7 linked regions of the Homo sapiens genome follow. The protein of the gene in region 4 purifies or fractionates together with the protein of the main gene of each other region. This does not show direct contact. Each region holds a gene or a part of one and is shown on either strand. Other genes may lie near its edges.

Region 1 (3,075 bases), on a different chromosome or scaffold from region 4:
ACTCCTGACCTCAAGTGATCCACCTGCCTCCGCCTCCCAAAGTGCTGGGATTACAGGTGTGAGCCACCGTGCCTGGCCAAAATATCTCTTTTCTTAGGAGATAAATACTGAGATATTTAGAAGTGATTAATTCACTTATAACTTGCTTCAAATGACTGAGCTAAAAACAAAGAAACCAGATACATACACAAAGAGGAAAAAAGTGAACACAGCAAAATGTTAATTGCAGAATCTAGGTGGTGGGTAGACGGGTGTTTACTGTGCCATCTGTGTTTAAAATTTTTCCCGGCCAGGTACAGTGGCTCATGCCTGTAATCCCAGCACTTTGGGAGGCTGAGGCAGGAGAATCACTTGAACCTGGGGGGCGGAGGCTGCAGTGAGCCAAGATTGCGCCACTGCACTGCAGCCTGGGCGACAGAGTGGTACTCTGTCTCATAAAAAAAAAAAAAAAAAATTTTTATCCTAAGAGTTGGGAAAAAAAAAGAATGCTCTCTGAAGCCAGGCACCTCATGAGTAAAACAGGCTACAAAGCCCCATGTCCCCGTCACCTCCACCAAGCTCCGGCCCATGGCTAGGTGAAGAACCAGCCCCTGAGCCATAGCCTCCCCTCCCCAAGGTGGGCTAACAACAGCGCCCACCCTACTGAGAGGGTTCACCCTCCCAGTCTGCAGCCCAAGGACAGCAGCCTGGTCTGACCTTGGCCGAGCCACGCCTGACCTCGAGCTTCAGCAGCTTACCTGCATCCCACTCCAGCAGGCTGGGGTCCTCCCAGCTGCTCCCTGCCGCTGTGCGAATGCACCGTTTCAATTTCTCTGGCTTCCCCTTCTTCTTGTCTTCACCCAGGGGCTCTGGGACCTGCAGAGGAAAGGGGAGAGGTGCAAAGGGGTTGGTATTGGGGTCTCCCACTGTCCTTTGGTCCCCGGCCCTCCTGCCACCACAGTAAGGGCTGGATGTGCTTCTGGATGTGGGGCACATGTGTCCGCCTCCCTCCCCCAGGTCCTCCTGCTGTCCGGTCTGTCTGTGTGGAAGTTCCTGGGCTCCTGTCTGCCCCCCGTCCCTTCTGTCCCTTCACCGCTAGGCTCCCTGCTTACCTCAAGAGCCATGAGGCCTGGGGGTGGCTCTGGCCGAGGGGGCCGGGGCCGAGGACGCAGGGACAGGAGTTCAGGAATGCGCAGCGGGGGCAGGAGGCCGCGGACGACCTCCAACGGGAGGGGCAGGGGCTCAGGCTCGGGCAATGGCATGGCCAGGGCCAGCGGCAGGCTGGGCCCAATGACTGCAGGGCCAGCTGGGGCACCTCCTGCCCCCACGGCCACAGCCGCGCTAGCCTCCTCCAGCCCAGCCGCCGCCGCCACCACTGCCTCTTCCTTCTCTTTCAGGCCCAACCCCAGGCCTAGGCCCAGCTCTCGGGGTGCTGCTGGCTCTTCCTGTGGGTAAGAGGAGAGCATGAGGGGGGCCGGCTCACAGGCTCAGACTTTACTGTCATCTCCATTCCATCCAACAAAGAAAGGGCCTGGGGGCCAGAGAGCAGCCAAGAGACACCCAAGCAGAGAGTCTCCAGCCAGACAAACACAGAGAAGGAGAAACACAGGCAGAGAGAGACAGCCACAGACAAGAACATCAGTAACAATCAAAAGAGAAATATTCCAATAGCATGTTTCTCTCTGTACTCCCTTCACAAAAGGAGAGAACAGATTTTGCCACAGAAAGATGCAGAAAGAGACAGAGACAAAGGCAGAGTGAGAAGGTAGAGAAACAGAAAGTCAGGAGAGAGGCCAACTCAGACATAGCCCATTGGGCCAGGATGGATGGTCTCCCCGTCCACCGCACATCTGACCGTTAGTTCCCTGTTCACACTCACCAGAGGGGGCCTCAGTGCAGCCATGGAGCCCAGCGGGGGCCCTGGAGCCCGAGCCATTGGTGGCAGCATCATGGGTGGTCCAGGGGGCCCAGGCAGAGGGGGGCCCACGAGGGCCTGGTGAGGGGGCCGTAGGGCCATAGGGCGGGGGCCGGCTGCTGCAGAGGAGAGAGCGGAATCTGTCAGGGTGTTAGTGGGGAGTTCCAGGGCCTGGGGGGAGTTATGTGGCAGGGATGATGACCCTGGCCCCTCACCTGCTCTCTGTAGCACGTGGGGGACGAAGGCTGGACGCAGGATAGGGGCCCTCTGGGGGGCCACAGCTGTGGGAGAGAGAGATGGGGGTGTGTGTCATGGGGGACAGGGGCACTTGGGACAAGGTGTGTGTGTGCATGCGTGTGTGTGTGTGCACTCTCAGCATCAAGAAATCCTGGAGAAGAGTCTGGGGAGCCCTCCTGGAGATGTGGGGGCCTCTCCCCTGGTTCATTCCATGAAAATTTACCACTGAGAAGCTCCTCTGGCTCAGCCCTGTGGCAGGCAATGCTGGGGACACACCAACAGACCCAGGGTTCTCAGGGAGCTCCTGGTCCAGAGGAGGAGGGAATGGAGACATCACTAGAGAAGGAGAGCCAGTGGGGACCAGCGCTGGAAGCAGGGAAGCCCAGGCAGTGGGATCAGTGCTAAGAGAGGGGAGCCCTCTGACCCAGCCAGGCCCAGGGAAGGCTTCCTGGAGAAAGGGACCTGTGAGCTGAGACCCAAGGGGCAATGAAGTGTTAGGCAAGGGGTGAGTGGGAATATTATTGGCAGGAAGAATATTTATAAGCAAAACCTTTCCCTTTTCAGTTTAGTGTAACTGTAATAGAAGTAGTGGGGCTTAGAGAGTGTCATGAGAAGGGCTGAGCAGCCAGCAGGCACCCCAGTAGAGCTTTTTTGTTCTTAAAGCACAGCATTCTTGGCTGAGCCATGGGTGTCCTCCTGAGGGCACTGGGGAGCCACAGCAGGGTTGGAAGCTGGGCAGGGGAAGTAGGTCAGATTTGCATTTTGATCAAAACCATACTAAAAAGTAAGAGACATTACAACTTCTCAGAGATCATCAGATTAATAAGTATAACAGGATTTAGGTAACATAAGTAGCACGTTTGGTTTAACCGAGATTATACCAGAATTTTACATCCAAGTAAGAACACGCATCCTTTTCATACATATAAGGAAGTAATGTCCTA
Region 2 (2,954 bases), on a different chromosome or scaffold from region 4:
AGATGCATAATACCTCCCACTCCAAGTGAAATGCCCAACCCTCATCTATGAACACTACTTTCAGGGTCTTTAATGCCCATGACATTCTGCCCAAGAAAACAGCAGCTCTTCAACACAGCAGAGCAATTGCCCTGCCCTGCACCTGCACTAAAAAAGTTCTCAGAGCCATTTTATTCTCCACCCTGTTTCCCCTGGCTCAGCTGCCCTCATACCTCTTTTCTGACTCTGACATGAGGAAGACCTTCTGTTCCACACGCTCATGGGGCTTGCCTGCGGAGCCAATGTACACCACAGCAGGTCGCCGAAGATAGCTCCTGGCCAGACGCTCCACCGCTGGGGGCATGGTGGCCGTGAACATGACTGTCTACGAAAACAGGAGGCTCAGCCCTGCACCCAGGCAGGAATAATCATATATCCCACTGTCACCGAAGGCAGGTCAGCCCAGACTAAAGAATCTAAAATGGGCCACAGTATAGGCTTTGATAGCCACCACCTTAGAAAATAGTGTCCTCTGAATTCCCATCCTTCCTGAGTACCTGCTCATCAAGGCACTTTCCATCTTATGATGACAGGAAGGATTGAGAGCATTTGCTAGCACCTGTGGTCCCGGTAGCAGCATGAGTCTTTGGAATCGTTTTTCCAGGGCTAAGCTAAATGGCTCCACCCTTAGGACTGTCAGAGGACTGTACCTAGGCACACTTCATTCTAGAAACATGTACTCTGAGCCCACCTAAGGCAAGAAAGGCCCAAAAGGAGGTTGGCAACCTTGTACAACTTTTCTTTTTTTTTGAGACAGGGCCTCACTCTGTTGCCCAGGATGGAATGGAGTAGTGGCACGACCTCAGCTCACTGCGACCACTGCCTCCCAGGCTTAAGAGGTCCTCCCACCTCAGCCTCCTGAGTGGCTGGCACCACAGGTGTGCACCACCAATGCCCAGCTAATTTTTTAAATTTTTGTAGAGACGGAGTTTCGCCATGTTGCCCAGGCTGGTCTCAAACTCCTGAGCTCAAGTGATCCACCCGCCTTGGCCTGTCCAACTTTTCCCAGCCCAGGGAAGCAGCCTTACTTGGCGGTACTTATGTTTTCCCGACTCAAAGTTGGCCAGCATCTTCTCAGGGTCCTCAGCCTCATCCGTGTCTGGCTTCTGGTTGCTGACAGGCATGTGCTCCAGGATCTTCTGGACATCTGGCTCAAAGCCCATGTCAATCATCCTATCTGCCTCATCCAGAACCACATAGGTACAGCGGCTCAGCACCAGGTAGCGGTTCTCCAGCACATCAATCAAACGCCCAGGGGTAGCAATCACAATCTGAGGAGTACAGTATAATCATTTATAGCCCAGCAGGTGCCCCTTCTTTTCTTTCCTGTGAACTATCCACCCACTTGGGTGACAGACCTCCAATGCTGAGGAACTTGGACCCCAACCTCTGGTTATGTTTAGCAGTAAAGGCTCCTGCAAACTGGCATGAAATCACTTGTTGCCTGGATTTTCTCAGGAATGAATGAGGTCTCTGAGTAAGGTGCAAGGATTAGACAGAGGAGGCAAAATCAGTAGAAACTTTTTTTTTTTTGGCAAATCATTTCAGATCCTGAAGAAGGAACTTCTTAGATGGGAGAGACTAAGGGGTACTATGAAGGGGGTTGTATAAAGACTAAATTTTTTTAAAAAATTGTAAAAAGACTAAATTTCTACAGCAGACTTCTCATAAAGAGCTCTCCTCCACTTTCCTGAGATGAAGGCAATGCACAAAGTCAAAGATTTGGTCTGGCAGAGTAAAGAGTAACTAAAAGCACAGGCTATGGATATGAGTCTCAGCTCTGCCCATTGCCAGCTGTTTGTGACTTCAGGCAGTTATTAACCTGAACCTCAGCTTGATCTATAACAAGGAAATACCACTCTCATACATTATTGTGAGAATTAATGAGCTAATATATATGATATATACTATTTGTGATATAAACCCTGGTGCATAAGTTCTCAATAAATAGCACATATATATAAACCAGCTCCTTTCTTCATACTACTGCACATATATTCCAGAAACTAGAAACAAAGCCCCAAGATAGCCTTCCCAGACAGCAGGCTGGCTGCTAGATAGAAAAACAAACCTCACAACCCATGCGCAGCCTGAAGCCCTGGTCTTCTCTGGAGATGCCACCAATGACAGCCACAGTGCGGATACCTAGCGGTTTCCCAAACTTGATGGTCTCTTCCTCAATCTGTTGAGCCAACTCACGGGTGGGAGCCAGGATGATGGCATAAGGGCCTTGGTCTGACTCTTCGATCCTGTGGTAAACAGGGTGCCCCACAGCTTCGTGAGCTTTGGTTCTTATCCAACCACAAGCCAGAGCAAGACAAAGTCACTCTTACGGGGAGCAATGGGAATGGGGAGGATGATGAGAAAAGAATGCAATGATCTCACTTAAAAATCAGAGGCCAGGGCTGGGCATGGTGGCTCATGTCTGTAATCCCAGAACTTTGGGAGGCTGAGGCAGGCGGATCACCTGAAGTCAGGAGTTTGAGACCAGCCTGGCCAACATGGTGAAACCCTGCCTCTAATAAAAATACAAAAATTAGCCAGGCGTGGTGGCCGGCGCCTGTAATACCAGCTACTCGGGAGGCTGAGGCAGAAGAATCGCTTGAACCCAGGAGACAGAGGTTGCAGTGAGCTGAGATCACGCCACTGCACTCCAGCCTGGGTGACAGAGACACTCTGTCTCCAAAAAAAATAAAAATAAAAATAAGTCCAGAGGCCAGGCAAGGTGGCACAAGCCTATAATCCGAGCACTTTCGGAGGCTGAGGTGAGTGAATCACTTGAGCCCAGGAGTTTGAGACCAGTCTAGGCAACATGGTAAAACCCTGTTTCTACAAAAAATACAAAAATTAGCTGGGCATGTTCGAACACACCTGTAATCCCAGCTACTTGGGAGGCTGAGGTAGGAGGATATGAG
Region 3 (3,500 bases), on a different chromosome or scaffold from region 4:
AAAGGAAAAAAGAACCTGCAGATGTCAGGCCGACTTTTATTATAGGTTTTTCCTCAATTGCTGTCTGAATTTCTCACCCTTCCCCTTTGTGTTAGGACACGAGCAGAAGATATGAAAACAAGGCTGGCAGCTTCATCACTGGAATTGATGTCACCTCCAAGGTAAGACAGGCTATGATTTATTTATTCAGCTTGATAAGCAAGTGAACTTAATGAATTTGATCCCTAGGACATAACAGTAAATATTTCCTCTTTTATTTTGTTGCTGGATTTAAATTTTTTTTCTAAAAAAAATTGTGTTATTGGCCAGGCACGCTGGCTCATGCCTGTAATCCTAGCATTTTGAGAGGCCAAGCAAGTGGATCGTTTAAGCCCAGGAGTTCGAGACCAGCCTGGGCAACATAGTGAGACCCGTCTCTACGAAAGATACAAAAATTAGTCGGGTGTGGTAGCACAGGTCTGTAGTCCCAACTACTCAAGAGGCTGAGGTGGGAGGATCGCTGGAGCCTGAGAGGTTGAGGCTGCACTGAGCTGAAATCGTGCCACTGCACTCCAGTGGGGGCAACAAAAAAAAATTTTGTGTTATACAACGATGTCTTCATGCATCCTGAAACGGTACAGGCAGCATTTGTGTGTTCTTACAGCCATGAAAGGATAAAATCACTCTACTTAGATACCTGTGTTGAACCGTTTCCAAGAAAATGTCCAAGACGGGGGATGCTTTTTTAAATGGTATGTCCATTTCTAAAAAAATGTGTACTGTTTCCACTTGAAATGAAACAAAACATGAAAAGTGCCTGGCAGATGGTAGGCCCCCCATATTTAGGTGGAGTCTCGCTCCGTTGCCCAGGCTGGAGTGCAGTGGTGCGATCTCGGCTCACTGCAGCCTCCACCTCCTGGGTTCCAGCGATTCTTCTGCCTCAGCCTCCTGAGTAGGTAGGACTACAGGCGCCCGCCACCACGCCTGGCTAATTTTTGTAATTTTAGTAGAGACAGGGTTTCATTGTATTGGTCAGGCTGGTCTTGAATTCCTGACTTCAGGTGATCCACCTGCCTCAGCCTCCCGAAGTGCTGGGATTCCAGGTGTAAGCCACCGTGTCGGCATAATAGGCCCTTAATAAGACTATTGCCTTGTATCTGATGATTGCTATTACCAGATTACCACCTTCATTGTAACACCTCATAGAGTCAAGCCTATTATTTTCCTTATATGTAGTCAATACATGTAAGTTGCTTTAATCAGTGATGTTCCGTTTTAGACATTTTTTCTGATTTTAATGTTTACAGTTAAGTTTGGAACAGAATTTTGTATTACATTTCTGAATAATAGTATATATTGCTGTATTGAATACATAAAAGCAAAAATAAAAATATATTTCGTGCCTTCCTTTTTATAGTGTTTTTTTTTTTTTTTTGAGACAGAGTCTCACTCTGTCACCCAGGCTGGAGTTCAGGGGTGCGATCACGGCTCACTGCAACCTCTGCCTCCTGGATTCAATTGATCCCTCTGCCTCAGCCTCCCGAGTAGCTGGGACTACAGGTGGATGCTATCATGCCCAGCTAACCTTTTTATGGTTTATCTGTGTCTCTTGTGTTTCCAATCACTTAAAGGCCCCCCATCCCCGCAAAAAAAAAAAAAAAAAAAGAGAGAGAATTGGTCATCTTTTAGACAAGAAAAGAGAATAAAGTGAAAATCTTTTCTTACTGTAATTGAAAAAGTAAACTATTCATAATCTTACACTGTTTGCCATTATATGACACAGGTATATGGGAAAAGGGTGATAGTCTCAGAGTTAGTACTTTGTTTCTAAAGGAAGGTAAATTGTTGTTTGTACTAGGAAGACTTCAGTGAAGAAAATGAGCGTTAACTATTGGGAAAGAACAGAAGTGTTGCAACTTTACCAATCCCCACAAGCTCTCTGTAGTCAGACCTTCAATTAGTGTGGCAAAGTCAATATACAATTAGTGAAGGGGACTGGGCGCGGTGGCTCACATCTGTAATCCTGGCACTTTGGGAGGCCGAGGCAGGCAGATCACGAGGTCAAGAGATCGAGACCATCCTGGCCAACATGGTGAAACCCCGTCTCTACTAAAAATACAAAAATTAGCTGGGCGTGGTGGTGTGCACCTGCAGTCCCAGCTACTCAGGAGGCTAAGGCAGGAGAATCTCTTGAACCCGGGAGGCGGAGGTTGCTGTGAGCTGAGATCGTGGCAGCCTGGCGACAGAGTGAGAGTCCGTCTCAAAAACAAAAACAAACAAAACCAATTAGTGAAGGGTTCCTAAGAGCCATCAGAAACCCACAGTTGGACCTGGGTTTATTTTAGCTCTTAGAAGAAACTTACAAAGCTGATTATTTTTTCAGTAAAGTGTCAATGGTTCTTATCACTTAGAGATGAAAACTGGTGATTCCGTGGACACGAGGCTGGAAGAGGAGGGAGAGTTTCTTTGCTTCGGTGTTATTTTTAAACAGACTAGCTTTAGGGAGTGGACTGCTCAGGCAGTTATAATGTGGAAGAGCGTGATAGGTGTGATTACCATTGCTCAGACAATGTGAAGTGGTTGTAGGTGGGCTCCTAGAAATAGCACTGGAATCAGATCTGCTTGCTTAATAGCTGAAGTATCTCCAGCAAACCTTTTTGCTTTTTTGTGCCTCCATTTCTGCACCTGGAAAATTGGGATGTTGAAATTGTTTAGTTGTAATTTGTTGGCATAATTGATAATAACAAATGAAGTGTCATATAACTTTATAAACTTTAAAGGACTATTCATTCAGTCAGCAGATACTCACTGAGTTCCTACTATGTCCCAGGCACAGTGATAGGCTGTGTTATGTCGGAGATGGTTGCAAATTACAGCGATATTAACATATCCCCCCAGTCATTGAGTGTGAATATCCAGGTCTCTGCCAGACTGATTCAAGGTGTAGTGTTGCTTATTTCTTCTTTTTTAGTTCAGGTTTGTCACTGATGCATCATGATGCATGTGTGATTTAACTCGCCTTCTCCATATTTTACTACTTTCACTTTTTCTGTACTTTCTAGGAAGCAATTGAAAAGAAAGAGCAGCGAGCCAAGCGCTTCCATTTTCGATCGGAAGTAAATCTTGCCCAAAGAAATGTAGCCTTGGACCGAGACATGATGAAGAAAGGTACAGGGTGTTTTGTGGGAAATTTGTCCACATTTCCCCAGAGAGTGCCTTTTCCCTGCCATCACCTCATGCTTCTGGCCTTGCCTTGCGTGTCCACTCCTTATCCAAGCACTCTTGTGAGAAGGGACCTGTGAAGTCTCCATTTCTGAGGTCACCTGTTTAAAGTTCAGATGCTGTCAGCTGGCTCAGATGTTAGAGCTGGGAAATAAGAGATTGTCTTTTCTGAGGAGGCCCAGAAAAAGTTACCAGTTAGTGGCAGAGCTGAGATTCGAACCTGTGCTTCTAAGGACCCTTACTCATTTTCTCCTTTTATCGTAGAGGTGTTAACTTTTCTTTGCCTTTAAACGTAGTGA
Region 4 (3,500 bases):
CTACTTGGGAGGCTGGGGTGGGTGGATTGCTTGAGCCTGGAGGCCGAGGCTATGGTGAGCCGTGATCTTGCCACTGCACTCAAGCCTGGGCAACAGAGCAATACCCTGTCTCCAAAAAAAAAAAAAAAAAAAGTCTTCCAGGACATCCAGGAACATTTGTTTGTTTGTTTGTCTTTTAATTTTTATTTCTTTTTGAGACAGAGTCTCACTTTGTCGCCCAGGCTGGAGTGCAGTGGCGCGATCTCAGCTCACTGCAAGCTCCGCCTCCTGGGTTCACAGCATTCTCCTGCCTCAGCCTCCCGAGTAGCTGGGACTACAGGCGCCCGCCACCACGCCCAGCTAATTTTTTTGTATTTTTTTTCAGTAGAGATGGGGTTTCACCGTACTAGCCTGGATGGTCTCCATCTCCTGACCTCGTGATTTGCCTGCCTTGGCCTCCCAAAGTGTTGGGGTTACAGACGTGAGCCACCGCGCCTGGCCAGGAACACTTATTTTTTAATGAACATTGTAAACATAAAACGAGGTATATCTAATGCATCATATGCTACTTATTTATTGAGACCATCTCACTCTATCACCCATGCTGGAGTGCAATGGGGCGATATAGGCTCACTGCAACCTCCACCTCCCAGGTTCAAGTGATCCTCCTCCCTCAGCCTCCTAAGTAGCTGGGACTACAGGTGCATGCCTCCACAACCAGCTAATTTTTGTATTTTTAGTAGAGACAGGGTTTCACCATGTTGCCCAGGCTGGTCCCAAAACCAGCTTCAAGTGATCCACTCACCTCAGCCTCCCAAAGTGCTGGGACTATAGGTGTGAACCACCACACCCGGCTGATATGGTTTTTTTTTTTTTTTTTTTTGAGACAGAGTCTCACTGTTGGCCAGGCTGGAGTGAAGTGGCACGATCTTGGCTCACTGCAACCTCCACCTCTCGGGTTCAAGTGATTCTCCTGCCTCAGCCTCCTGAGTAGCTGGGATTACAGGCATGCACCACCATGCTCGGCTAATTTTTTTTTTTTTTTTTTTTTTTTTTAGTAGAGAGGGGGTTTCACCATGTTAGCCAGGATGGTCTCAATCTCCTGATCTTGTGATCCACCTGCCTAGGCCTCCCAAAGTGCTGATATTACAGGTGTGAGCCACCGCACCCAGCGGCTGATATAGTTTTTAAAACATTAACTAAACACACACCCATGTCCCTCTCCCTGGGGCTGGGGCAGCATCACTAATGCCCTGCCCAGACTTGAGTGTCCCCTCCCCATCCATGGTCATGACTCACCGGCTTGTCTTCATGGCTTTAGCACATAAGGACCTGCCCCTGAACAGTTATTTTGTTGTGTATTAATTATTCTATAACCTGAGTCACACTGTATGACTCTTCTGTGATTTGTTTTGTAAAAAAATCTGTGCCCCTGAGAGTAACCCTGATGCACACGGCTGTAGCTCATCAGTTTCCACTATGGAATCACAGCCCGTGAGCTGGATGCTCCTTGATCTGGCTCTCTAGCCCACTGAGGATGGACTTTTTTTGTCCCAAGTACTGCGGCTGCAGGCCCACTGACAATGTCTCCTGGTGCACATGGGCACACTCGGGAGAGGTGTGGGGTGGGCCCCGGGCACGCACACATTCCCTCTCATCTGATTAGACTCCTGCCCATGGCTGTGAGTAGCGTGGCTGAGGACTCTGGCCGCTCCATGTCCTTTACTCCTACTCGCTACTGTCAGGCTTGGACCTTTCTGCGGAATTGTTGGCAGGTGGCAGGTGCCTCACTGTTTTGGTTCACCTTTCTGTGATCCCTCCTGAAACTGGATTCACCGGGTATTTTCCTGGTGAGTTAGGCTTTCTCTTCTGTGAACTGCCTGTCTTATCTACATCTTTCGCCTATTTTCCTGTTGTGTTGATTTGTTTTGTCTGTTTGTATACTCTTGACACCAACCCATTCTTGGTGGTATATATGGGCAAATATCTTCTCTTTTTGGTCTGCCTTTTTATATTCTTCATGGTATGTTTTGTAAAAAAACAAAAAACAAAAAACTTACGTTCTCAATTTCTTTTTTTTTGAGACGGAGTCTTGCTCTGTCACCCAGGCTGGAGTGCAGTGGTGCGATCTCGGCTCACTGCAAGCTCCGCCTCCTGGGTTCACACCATTCTCCTGCCTCAGCCTCCCTAGTAGCTGGGACTACAGGTGCCCGCCACCACGTCTGGTTAATTTTTTTGTATTTTTTTTAGTAGAGACAGGGTTTCACTGTGTTGACCAGGATGGTCTCATCTCCTGACCTCGTGATCCGCCCGCCTTGGCCTCCCAAAGTGCTGGGATTACAGGCGTGAGCCATCGCGCCCGGCCACGTTCTCAATTTCTATGTAGTTACACGTTCACTTTTTTCTTCATGGTTTCTTGAAGAAACTCACCCATGGAACCTGTGGGTTTCTTGGTTTTTTTTTTTTTTTGAGACAGGATCTTGTTCTATCACCCAGGCTATCATAGCTATCTGTGATATAGTCAGCTATAGTCTATCATAGCTGACTATAACCTCGAACTCCTAGATTCAAGCAATCCTCCTGCCTTAGCCTCCGGCGTAGCTGAGGCTTCAGACACATGCTACCATGCCCAGCTAATTAAAAAAACATTTTTAGAGATGGGGTTGGTAGGGGGGGTGGTCTTGCTGTGTTGCCCCAGGCTGGTCTCAAATTCCTGGCCTCAAGCAATTCTCCTGCCTTGGCTATGCTGACAACTTAAAAAATCTTTTCTACCAAAAAGTTATAAATGTAATTTCCTTAATTTGATTCCGAAATGTGAAGTTTTTACTTTGAAGTTCTTAATCTATCTGCAAGGTGTGAGGTATAAACCCAATTTCATTTTTTCCCCAAATAGATAACTGACTGTCCCACGCCCACTCGCTGCACTGACGAGCGACTCTTCCCACTGGGACACGATTCTGTCTCGGGGCCCCGCTGTCTGGTCTCTCTGTTCTGTTAGTCTATCCTTATGCAATCCCACACTGCCACAATGCCCCTACTTTATCCAATTTCAGAATCATTTTCCAGCTTCCAAAATAATCCCTATTGGGATTTTTACTGGAGTTGCATTTAACCTAGAAATGAACTACATGAGATGGACATCTTGACAATATATTGTCCTATCTAGGAATTGTGTAACCCCTAAATTCATATCGGGAAGCCCTAACCCCCAATGACTGTATGTGGACAGAGCACCTTTAGGAGGTGGAAATTGCAGTGAGCTGAGATAGAGTCACTGCACCCCAGCCTGGGTGACAAAGTGAGACACTATCACAAAACAAAACAACCCCTCAATTCCAAGGATCCTTTCTGTTCTCTCCAGCCTTTCTTTCTAGCTCATTGACTGTATTAACTTCAATCCAGTAATTCTTCAACCACATCACGACTCCAGGCCCTGTCCTCACACCCATCATTCTCTGTTATGTCCCTCATTACCCAGTTTAGACTCAGGGGGAAATCAACAGAACCTCTCCTTTGTGAAA
Region 5 (3,092 bases), on a different chromosome or scaffold from region 4:
AAATTCCTTTGTGTTGCAAAACCAAGCTGATTTAAACGATTTTGTCTTAAATTGTTGCTAAATGTTTATCTACACATGCTGTCAGAAATAACCTTGTTAAGAAGGTGAAGCTGGTGTCTCAGCAAATCAGACCCCTTGGAGAAGGCGTCGAATGGCCTGTGCCCCGTTTTCCTTTTTCTCTTTCCGCACCATCAAAAGGAAAAGTGAGAAAATAGCAGAAACATTAGTTAAATCCTGAATTATACCCCATAACCTACAGGAATAATCTCACTACACTGAAAGCTGACAATATTTGTAGGATTTTTTGAAATAATTAGGATCCTAATTATTAATAAACTGGTAATTTTGGCTAGGTTTACATCTTTAACTAATAATACTTTCAATTAAAAACTTTCAGGAAAAAAACAAAAGGTTGCTTTTAACTATTTATGGTTTACCTGACTTACCAGCACTGAAGACAAAAACTTTTAAAAATGGCTACAAATGCCTTGTTCACAAAAGACTTTATTATCTAGTGATGCATACTGAGAACATACAGAAATCTGCATGGTCCACTTCACATGCAGTAGAACAATCTTCACTTTACAATAAGTGAGTGTCAACTGTTTTATGCAATAGACAACACTTTAAAGTCACATTCTTAAAGAAAAGCTTCATTTACAAAAGAAATAAAAGGTAAAGAAGCAATTACCGCTTTTAAAAAGCAGCTGCTTTGTTCAAGAGTGGAAGGTTTATGCCTGTATTGAAAGACAACATGATCACAAATAATGAAAACAATGAACAAATGAAAAACACTTTTACCATAAAGCAGTACACTTTCAAAATGACATACAAATAGTTAAAAATTTCATTACGTTGTCTAGCCTTTAAATATGAGGACTTTCAGAATTAGGCCTCAACATTTGTAATTAGTAAATGAAAACTACGCATCGTTTCTATGTCACTAGGAACTATATTTAACAAAATGTATATAAAGTCTATAGCAAGTTGATTTAAAAAAAGTAAAGTTAATAAGAAACAGTACACTGAAGGCGCTCTATCCATCAAGCGCGTTCTCTTCCAATTTTAAATGTGATGAACAAACAGAAATTGTAACTATGCCACAGTTGCAATGCCAAAAAATAAAACAAGATCAGTTATCACACATGCAGGGAATTCTGCCACAAAGCTAACATCCCTCATTTGTCAGTTGTTCCAATAAAATAACATCTTAAAACACCAGAGATGTTGATGGTTTAGCTTACCTTCAGTGTACTGAATGCTGCACACAACCTGCTTTAAAAGGAGACCATCCCTGCAGGCAGGCTCAAGAAGGAACAGACCCCTTTCGGCACTGACTACACCAAGGGCATGCTGCTGTGGCCTGCACACACACACCTAGGAAAACGTGAATATAAACAGCATTTATGCTGGCCATTTTATCTCAAGACCAAAATGAAGCCAAGTCTGCTAAGAACAAATCAACCACCCAATATTACTACTCATTTCATAACAGATGCTTTTGTCTTTATGTGAACTGCAACCATATACATTAGCACTGTAATTTTGTGCAGTCTTGGCAATTTAAAACAGTCTACAGTGAAATTTCACGTAAGACACAAAACAGATTAACTAACATCTCTAAAAGAAATATCACCCTTGGTGTTAATTCAAATATATCATGCTTCCTCAAATTTGCTGGAGAAATATTTATAAGTTTATATACATTAATAAACTGCTGTGAAATTTCTTCAGTCTTTGTATTTACTCAAACCCTTGGAGTTTCTTCATCTTGTTTAAATTTTTTCCTGGATGAAGGCGTGCTGTAGGGCCTGGTTGATGCTAATTCGTTTAGCTGGGTCCAACATCAGAATCTGGTCCAACAAGTCCTTTAGCTGGTGTACTTTCTTACGTTGGTCTTCAGGAAGTCTCTGGCACCCAATCAAGTCAGCCAACAGGTCCTTAGTTGGATTAATGGTGCTCATAACAGTAACTTTCTCCTAAAAATAATTTTTAAAATGCGTATCTCTAAATAAGTTACTAAGCATATACAACTTAAATCAGATTGTTTTGGGGTCTATCAAAAATATTAAAAACATGCATATACATACAAAATATATACACACAGTGCACATTTTGGGCAATGACAGACTGCATATATGACAGTGGTCCCTTAAGATTGGAATACCGTATTTTTGCTCTCCCTTTTCTATGTTTAGATACATACATACACTTACCACTTGCAAAAGTGCCTACAGTATTCAGTCCACCAACTTACAGTTCAGGCCTAGAAGCAAAAGGCCATACTACTTACCCTAGATGTGTGTGAGTGTATGCTGTGGTTATGTGACGCATGACTGTATCATCATCATCTATTCATTTAAAACTTTGCTGTGGTTTCCTCTATGCTGTACATCTTTTTAAAAGGTAACCAAAAAACTTAAATGAAAAAGTTGATGCCAACTCTGGGCTGGGCGCGGTGGCTCACACCTGTAATCCCAGCACTTTGGAAGCCCAAGGTAGGTGGATCACTTGAGCTCAGGAATTCGAGACCAGCCTGGGCAACACTGCAAAACCCATCTCTACTAAAAATACAAAAATTATCCAGGCGTGGTGGCACACAATTGTAATCCCAGCTACTCGGGAGGCTGAGGCATGAGAATTGCTTGAACCTGGGAGGCAGAGGTTGCTGTGAGCCAAGATCGTGCCATTGCACTTCACCCTGGGTGACAGGTGACAGAGCGAGACTCAGTCTCAAAAAAGAAAAAAAAAGTCAACTCCAAGTTAGCAATGAAAATTTACAATAAGATAAGCATGAGCTGTTTGCACTGTACTTTCCCTACCTTGAAGTGGTAAGTGACAGACATGTGAATAAGTTAATACCCTGAAGTATTATTAAGTGCTCTGACAAAGACAGGGACATATGCTATAATAATGGGACAAAAATAAGGAAATCATTACTTCAATCTGGGAGTTTTCAAAAGGCTCATACAGAATGTGTATTTCAGCTGAGGCTTGAAGATGATACATTTTTTAGGGGGTTGGGGGTGAGGCAGCACAGGAAATGACTAAGCTCAGGGAGGTCTGTTAGCAAAGGCACAAAGGTCTGAACC
Region 6 (2,402 bases), on a different chromosome or scaffold from region 4:
ATTTTCACATGGGTTCTGGGTACTTCTAATTCTTTGAAACTTAGTACTGCAGGCTGGGTGCAGTGGCTCATGCCTATAGTCCAGCACTTTGGGAGGCTGAGGCAGGCAGATCACTTGAGGCCAGGAGTTTGAGACCAGCTTGGCCAACATGGCAAAACCCTGTCTACCAAAAACACAAAAATTAGCTGGGCACTGTGGTGTGCACCTGTAGTCCCAGCTACTCATGTGGCTGAGGCACTTGAATCGCTTGAACCCGTGAGGCAGGGTTGCAGTGAGCCAAGATCTTGCCACAGCACTCCACCCTGGGTGATGCAGTGAGACTTTCAAAAAAAAAAAAAAAATCTGAGCTCTACTGCATTGGTTATTAAAATATAATAAAAGTATTAAATTCTATTTTCGCACCAAATGAAAACACTTGATTATCATTATAGCACTTTAAACTTACTTTTCCCTTATATATTCTTGATTTAGAACAAATTACCGTACTTGAATTTCCGATCTTGCTTTCTTTAAATCTTTATTTAAAAGTCCATGCTAATAATGTGTTTACATTTTTACAGTTACATTATGATAGAAACTGTTGGATTTTTTAAATATCTAAAACAATGGCCCACTGAAGAAAGGAACAATTAACTCTTTAATTAATTCCTTAGGATAAATACCCAGAAATTTAACAGCTAGGGCAGACTTCTAATACAATACCGAAAGTCCTTCCAAAAACCAAGTGGTTGCCAACTTATGTCCCTTAGCATTATAACATTCTTGAGCCAATAGTGTAAAAATACGCTGACAATTTTATAGGCAAACATTACTCAAGGTATCTTACTTTCCACTTATTACTAAAGTAATTAACCCCTAAATAGATGCTCCTCAACAGTGGGACTACATCCTGGTAAACCTATCATAAGTTGAAACTATCAAGTTGAAATGCATTTAGTACCCGGATAAACCTATCATAAAGTTGAAAATTTGTAAATTGAACCAGTGTAAATCAGAGGCCATCTTACTTCATACTCATGAAGCAACTATAGTGGGATATTTTTCAACTTACGAGATAGCCTAGGCTTGTTGAAACACTGTCCTAATTTACTGGCTCTCTGGTAATTAAGTCATAAATGGTCAAACATCAAATTCTAGAAAAGCATATATTTAAATTCTCATCACTATAATTCAGAATGACTGGTTTACAAAAATATGTTCATAGTATTTGGGTAATAACTGTGGTGATTGTCTCAACTGGCAAGCTAAGTGGAATGCCTTAAAGAATCTATCCAAGATTAGTTGGCAGGCATTTCCAGTGTTGGTAAATCAAAGGCCCACGAAGGTATGCTGAGCCTTGATAGCACAACCTTGCTTAGGACTTTGCCTCAACTAACATACTTTTTAGTTTGGCAAGTTACCTGACCCTCCAGGTAACTCATTTTTCTCCATAGTCTGCTACTTACAAGATTGTCATATTTTTGTAATCTAGAAGCAATTATAGAGAATATTTTATTAGACTTTACAAATGACAACTGCATAAAACAGAAACCAGTTTCATGATCTAGTTTAGGGAGTATGTATTTTATACAACTCATAATCCTTTACAAATAGAAAAAAATCAGTAATACACTGAATCAACTTGAAGAATCTTCAGCATAAAGTTCAACAAAGTCCCTTAGATGCAATTTCTTTTGGATTTACAGCAACACTTTTTGTTATGTTGTATGTCTTGTAAATTCCAATAAGTCTATCCGAAATCTCAAACATATTATTTCGAAGAGAAATTATTATGAACTGTGCATTTTTTGTTTGTTCCTAAAGAGAAACAAAGAAAAGTCAAACATTAAGTAATAACAGGTAAATCACACAAACATGTAACCTCAAATATTTTTTGGACAATAAACATTACATTGATAACATGTAAAGGAATGATGGCAGGAATAATTCATAAAACAGTATTTGAGTGTGAAAGGAATTTGGTTATTTTGACTTCTAGTGGAAAAGATCTAGGAAGATGACCTAGGATTCTAGCTGTGATTCTGCTACTAATTTGCATTTTTAATTTATATTTTACTCCTCCAAAATGGAAATATTTGGTTCAAATAAAAAATAATTTGGTCTCCACTGATACCAGAGGAGATGGAGATGGAGTTATTAGACAATAAAGAAAAAGCTCAATTGTAAGAAATAAAGAATTCCATGTGTAATGTTTAGGATACCCCTAAAAGTTTCTGGAATGAAAATCCCAAAATGATTACTTACATATATATAAAATGCAACAATGGACACATTTTTAAAATCAAGGGCTGCATCAATCTCATCCATGAAGTAAAGGGGAGTGGGCTTGTAGTGGTGAAGAGCAAATACTAAAGCCAATGAACTAAGTGTTTTCTCTCCTCCCGAAAGGTTGAAGATCTTTT
Region 7 (3,500 bases), on a different chromosome or scaffold from region 4:
GAGGAAGCTCCATCACTTTGTGGCTAAGCTATGTCCCCTCCTCTACTTGTGCACTGGCTTTCTGGACCAAATGGCAGGATTTTACATCCATCATCTTTCTAATGTGACTCATCATGATTGCCTGACAGGATCTTTTTGGGATTTGATACCAACTTAAACATTTTTGCTGCTACTCCAAATTCCAGGTTATTATAAATTTCATAGGCATGGCTTCCATCACTTCATTCAAACCAACAGAAGAAGCCAACTGAGTACCTACTCTTGCTCTATCAAATCCCCACTTCTCCCCTCTGTTCACTCCACTCCCCTAGCCAAAAATGCTAGAGGTTCTTTGTAGGCAAGAGGAAATCATAAAGTAGTCTAAGGTTGTTAAGAGGTTCTTGAGTCCATCAGCTAATCTCAACTTCAACAAAATCCCTGAAATGGTATAAAAATATTATGCACTTAGCGTGTGTATATATGTGCTATAACGTTCTCTAGATTCTAAAGGGCTCTATCTGTATCCTAAAAGATTAATCACTGATAGTGGTTACACATTCAACCAACTTCTGGGCACAATGGCCCATAACTGTTATCTCAGCAACTTGAGGGGCTAAGGTGGGAGGAGTGCTTGAAGCCAAATATTTGAGACCAGCCTGGGCAACATAGCAAGATCCCGCCTCTACAGAAAAATTTAAAAATTAGCCAGGCGTGTTGGTGCATATCTAGCCCTTTAACTACTACTAATAATTTACTAGAACCAGCTGGGTGCAGTAGCTCATGCCTATAATCCTAGCACTTTGGGAGGCCGAGATGGGTGGATCACCTGAGGTCAGAAGTTCGAGACCAGCCTGGCCAACATGGTGAAACCCCATCTCCACCAAAAATAACAAAAAATTAGCCAGGCGTGGTGGTGGGTGCCTGTAATCCCAGCCACTCAGGAGGCTGAGGCAGGAGAATTGCTTGAACCTGAGAGGCGGAGGTTGCAGTGAGCTGAGATCGTGCCACTGCACTCCAGGCTGGGTGACAGAGCAAGACTCCGTCTCAAAAACAAACAAAAATAAATTTAAAAAAATAATTTACTAGAACCAAATAGCTAAGATTCTTCAGAAATTACTTGTTGCAATGTAATGCGTTACAAACACTCATCTTCTATAGTAGCGGCTGTCAAATTCAGGCATGCATTTGCAGCACCTAGAGGGTTTATTAAAATACAGATTGCTGGGCTCTATCCCAGAGTCCCTGATTCAGTAGGTATAGGGTAGAGCCTGAGAACTATTTTTTTTTTTTTTGAGACAGAGTTTCACCCTGTTGCCCAGGCTGGAGTGCAGTGGACGCAATCTCAGCTCACTGCAACCTCTGCCTCCAGGGTTCAAGTGATTCTCTTGCCTCAGCCTCCCAAGTAGCTGGGATTACAGGCAGGCCTGCACCATGACCCGCTAATTTTTGTATTTTTAATAGAGATGGGGTTTCACCATGTTGGTCAGGCTGGTCTTGAACTCCTCACCTCAGGTGATCCACCTGCCTCGGCCTCCCAAAGTGCTGGGATTACAAGCGTGAGCCACCGCGTCCAGCCTGAGCCTCAGAATTTGCATTTCTAACAAGTTCCCAGATGCTGCTGCCACTGCTGGTCCTGGGACACATTTGACAACCATTGCTCCAAAGTTCTGTGGTTGCCATGGTGCGCCACTGCTACCAGCAGGTATGTTAGAGTAGAAAAAGAGGTTGAAAACCAAATTCTAGACTAATTCATAACAATTTAAATAACATGTTGATGTCTTAAAGGTTATAGACTTGGATAAAACAAAAACCGCAAAATAAGATGAAACAAAAAATCACACAACATGTGATTAATGTTATTAAAACTTCTATACAAATAAAATTGCTAACACATTTTATACCTAAACTTGCATTAGTCTTCTAAGACATCCTCTTTGGAGAGGGCAATACAGAAAACATTCATAGATACATGTACATTCTGCATAACAGTTTTAAAAGCCTCTAGGGACTGGTCTAATAACACTATTAACAAGTTGTCTCTTTCCAACTTAAACGTTGCACACTGGTAAAAAGAAAGGAGGCCAGGTGGGGTGGCTCACGCCTGTAATCCCAGCGCTTTGGGAGGGCGAGGCAGGTAGATTGCTCGAGTCCAGGTGTTCAAGACCAGCCTGGGCAACATAGCGAAACCCCGTCTCTACAAAAAATACAAAAAATTAGCTGGGCTTGGTGTCACAGGCCTGCAGTCCCAGTTCTTCAGGAGGATGAGGCAGGAAGATCACTTGAGCCCAGGAGGCAGAGGTTGTAGTGAGCTGAAATCACACCACTGCACTCCAGCCTCGGCAACAGAATGAGACTCTGTCTCAAAATAATAATAAATAATAATAATAATAATAATAATAATAATAAGTAAAATAAAAAATTTAAAAAAAAAGAAGAAAGGAGGCATGGCTTCAAGGTGGGAAACATCACAGGTAAATTTGAGAACAAATAATAGGATACACACTCCACCTTTCAGAAGGGTAGAATCTATTAAAAGAAAATATTCAACTATAACAAAATATGACAAGTTTCTCTTACTATTCTTATCAGGTGTAAACTGCATATCCTACAGAGCACTTAGGAAACTGTCTTGCTGTCAGTAGACACGCACACACTTCTTAAATTTTACACTGGACATGTAATTAGATGCTTAAATTTAGCAGGTGACTATAAATTAGAATAATTTAACAAATAACTTCTAGAACAGGTCTAGAAGCAGTAGATTATATATCTTAAAATTATTTTATCAAATTGGGACATCTTACATATTATCAGTACTTTTTCTAGATGGGGAAATGCTTGTAATTTAGTATTTTAAAAAACCCAGTAGAACACAAAAGTGTAATTACACAGCATGTTCCCAATTTTGTGGGGAAAACTACATACACGTGTGTATTTTTTTTTTAAACGGAACAAATATTCATTGGGTCTTTACTGGGTAGTAGGATTACCAATGACTTTCACCTTTTCAGTCTCTTCTACAACTAAACACTATGAGGAGAGTCATCTGTTCCACGCTGTATCTTGAGCATTTTGTCTAGTCCCTGGTATATAACAGGGGATCTGTACCTATTGATCAATATTTACGTGAATGGTCCCAACCCTCATAGTGAAATTCAACTTCTCCACAACCAAAAAGCTATTATTCCTTCAACTCCTGACCCAAATGCCATCCTTTCAGAAGTTCTTTTCAGGTCAATGTGGCAATTTAATCCTTTTCCTTCTCCTAACATTTTGTACTGTTCTCCTGACTTTCTTCTTACCCTACCCTGCGTTGTACCAGAGGGCTTTGCAGCTGTTAAGTGTTCATATTATTGTTTACCTGATAGAGTTCATGAGACCATTGGAGATATTTTGTTCAGTTTAATTCTTCACTTGTAATTGTCAAATACATTTATTTCACTCCATAATACATTGGTACCCAATCTGGATAATACTGGTGTTTAACAGTGTACCACTCACCAGTGATTTGCTTTGCAGGA

The links.
Region 1: the proteins of SART1 (region 4) and RBM42 purify together in Homo sapiens (affinity purification with mass spectrometry; 3 studies listed by BioGRID and IntAct, with this or other methods). This does not show direct contact.
Region 2: the proteins of SART1 (region 4) and DDX23 purify together in Homo sapiens (affinity purification with mass spectrometry; 5 studies listed by BioGRID and IntAct, with this or other methods). This does not show direct contact.
Region 3: the proteins of SART1 (region 4) and NCBP3 purify together in Homo sapiens (co-immunoprecipitation; one large-scale study listed by IntAct). This does not show direct contact.
Region 5: the proteins of SART1 (region 4) and PRP4K purify together in Homo sapiens (affinity purification with mass spectrometry; 3 studies listed by BioGRID and IntAct, with this or other methods). This does not show direct contact.
Region 6: the proteins of SART1 (region 4) and SMC4 fractionate together in Homo sapiens (co-fractionation; one large-scale study listed by BioGRID). This does not show direct contact.
Region 7: the proteins of SART1 (region 4) and MYH10 fractionate together in Homo sapiens (co-fractionation; one large-scale study listed by BioGRID). This does not show direct contact.

The regions. Positions count from the first base shown.
Region 1 is NC_000019.10:35,632,036-35,635,110, reverse strand, and holds part of RBM42 (RNA-binding protein 42), read right to left. Parts: intron 2,176-3,075; coding exon 2,110-2,175; intron 2,035-2,109; coding exon 1,859-2,034; intron 1,425-1,858; coding exon 1,092-1,424; intron 856-1,091; coding exon 738-855; intron 1-737. UniProt on the Homo sapiens protein: Binds (via the RRM domain) to the 3'-untranslated region (UTR) of CDKN1A mRNA.
Region 2 is NC_000012.12:48,832,210-48,835,163, forward strand, and holds part of DDX23 (probable ATP-dependent RNA helicase DDX23), read right to left. Parts: intron 2,289-2,954; coding exon 2,111-2,288; intron 1,311-2,110; coding exon 1,068-1,310; intron 365-1,067; coding exon 213-364; intron 1-212. UniProt on the Homo sapiens protein: Involved in pre-mRNA splicing and its phosphorylated form (by SRPK2) is required for spliceosomal B complex formation.
Region 3 is NC_000017.11:3,839,747-3,843,246, reverse strand, and holds part of NCBP3 (nuclear cap-binding protein subunit 3), read left to right. Parts: intron 1-95; coding exon 96-161; intron 162-3,041; coding exon 3,042-3,147; intron 3,148-3,500. UniProt on the Homo sapiens protein: Associates with NCBP1/CBP80 to form an alternative cap-binding complex (CBC) which plays a key role in mRNA export. NCBP3 serves as adapter protein linking the capped RNAs (m7GpppG-capped RNA) to NCBP1/CBP80.
Region 4 is NC_000011.10:65,971,734-65,975,233, reverse strand, and holds part of SART1 (U4/U6.U5 tri-snRNP-associated protein 1), read right to left. Parts: intron 1-3,500. UniProt on the Homo sapiens protein: Plays a role in mRNA splicing as a component of the U4/U6-U5 tri-snRNP, one of the building blocks of the spliceosome. May also bind to DNA.
Region 5 is NC_000006.12:4,059,300-4,062,391, reverse strand, and holds part of PRP4K (serine/threonine-protein kinase PRP4 homolog), read right to left. Parts: intron 1,980-3,092; coding exon 1,776-1,979; 3' UTR 1-1,775. UniProt on the Homo sapiens protein: Serine/threonine kinase involved in spliceosomal assembly as well as mitosis and signaling regulation. Connects chromatin mediated regulation of transcription and pre-mRNA splicing.
Region 6 is NC_000003.12:160,433,052-160,435,453, reverse strand, and holds the end of SMC4 (structural maintenance of chromosomes protein 4), read right to left. Parts: coding exon 2,245-2,402; intron 1,798-2,244; coding exon 1,645-1,797; 3' UTR 501-1,644; downstream 1-500. UniProt on the Homo sapiens protein: Central component of the condensin complex, a complex required for conversion of interphase chromatin into mitotic-like condense chromosomes.
Region 7 is NC_000017.11:8,624,226-8,627,725, forward strand, and holds part of MYH10 (myosin-10), read right to left. Parts: intron 1-3,500. UniProt on the Homo sapiens protein: Cellular myosin that appears to play a role in cytokinesis, cell shape, and specialized functions such as secretion and capping. Involved with LARP6 in the stabilization of type I collagen mRNAs for CO1A1 and CO1A2.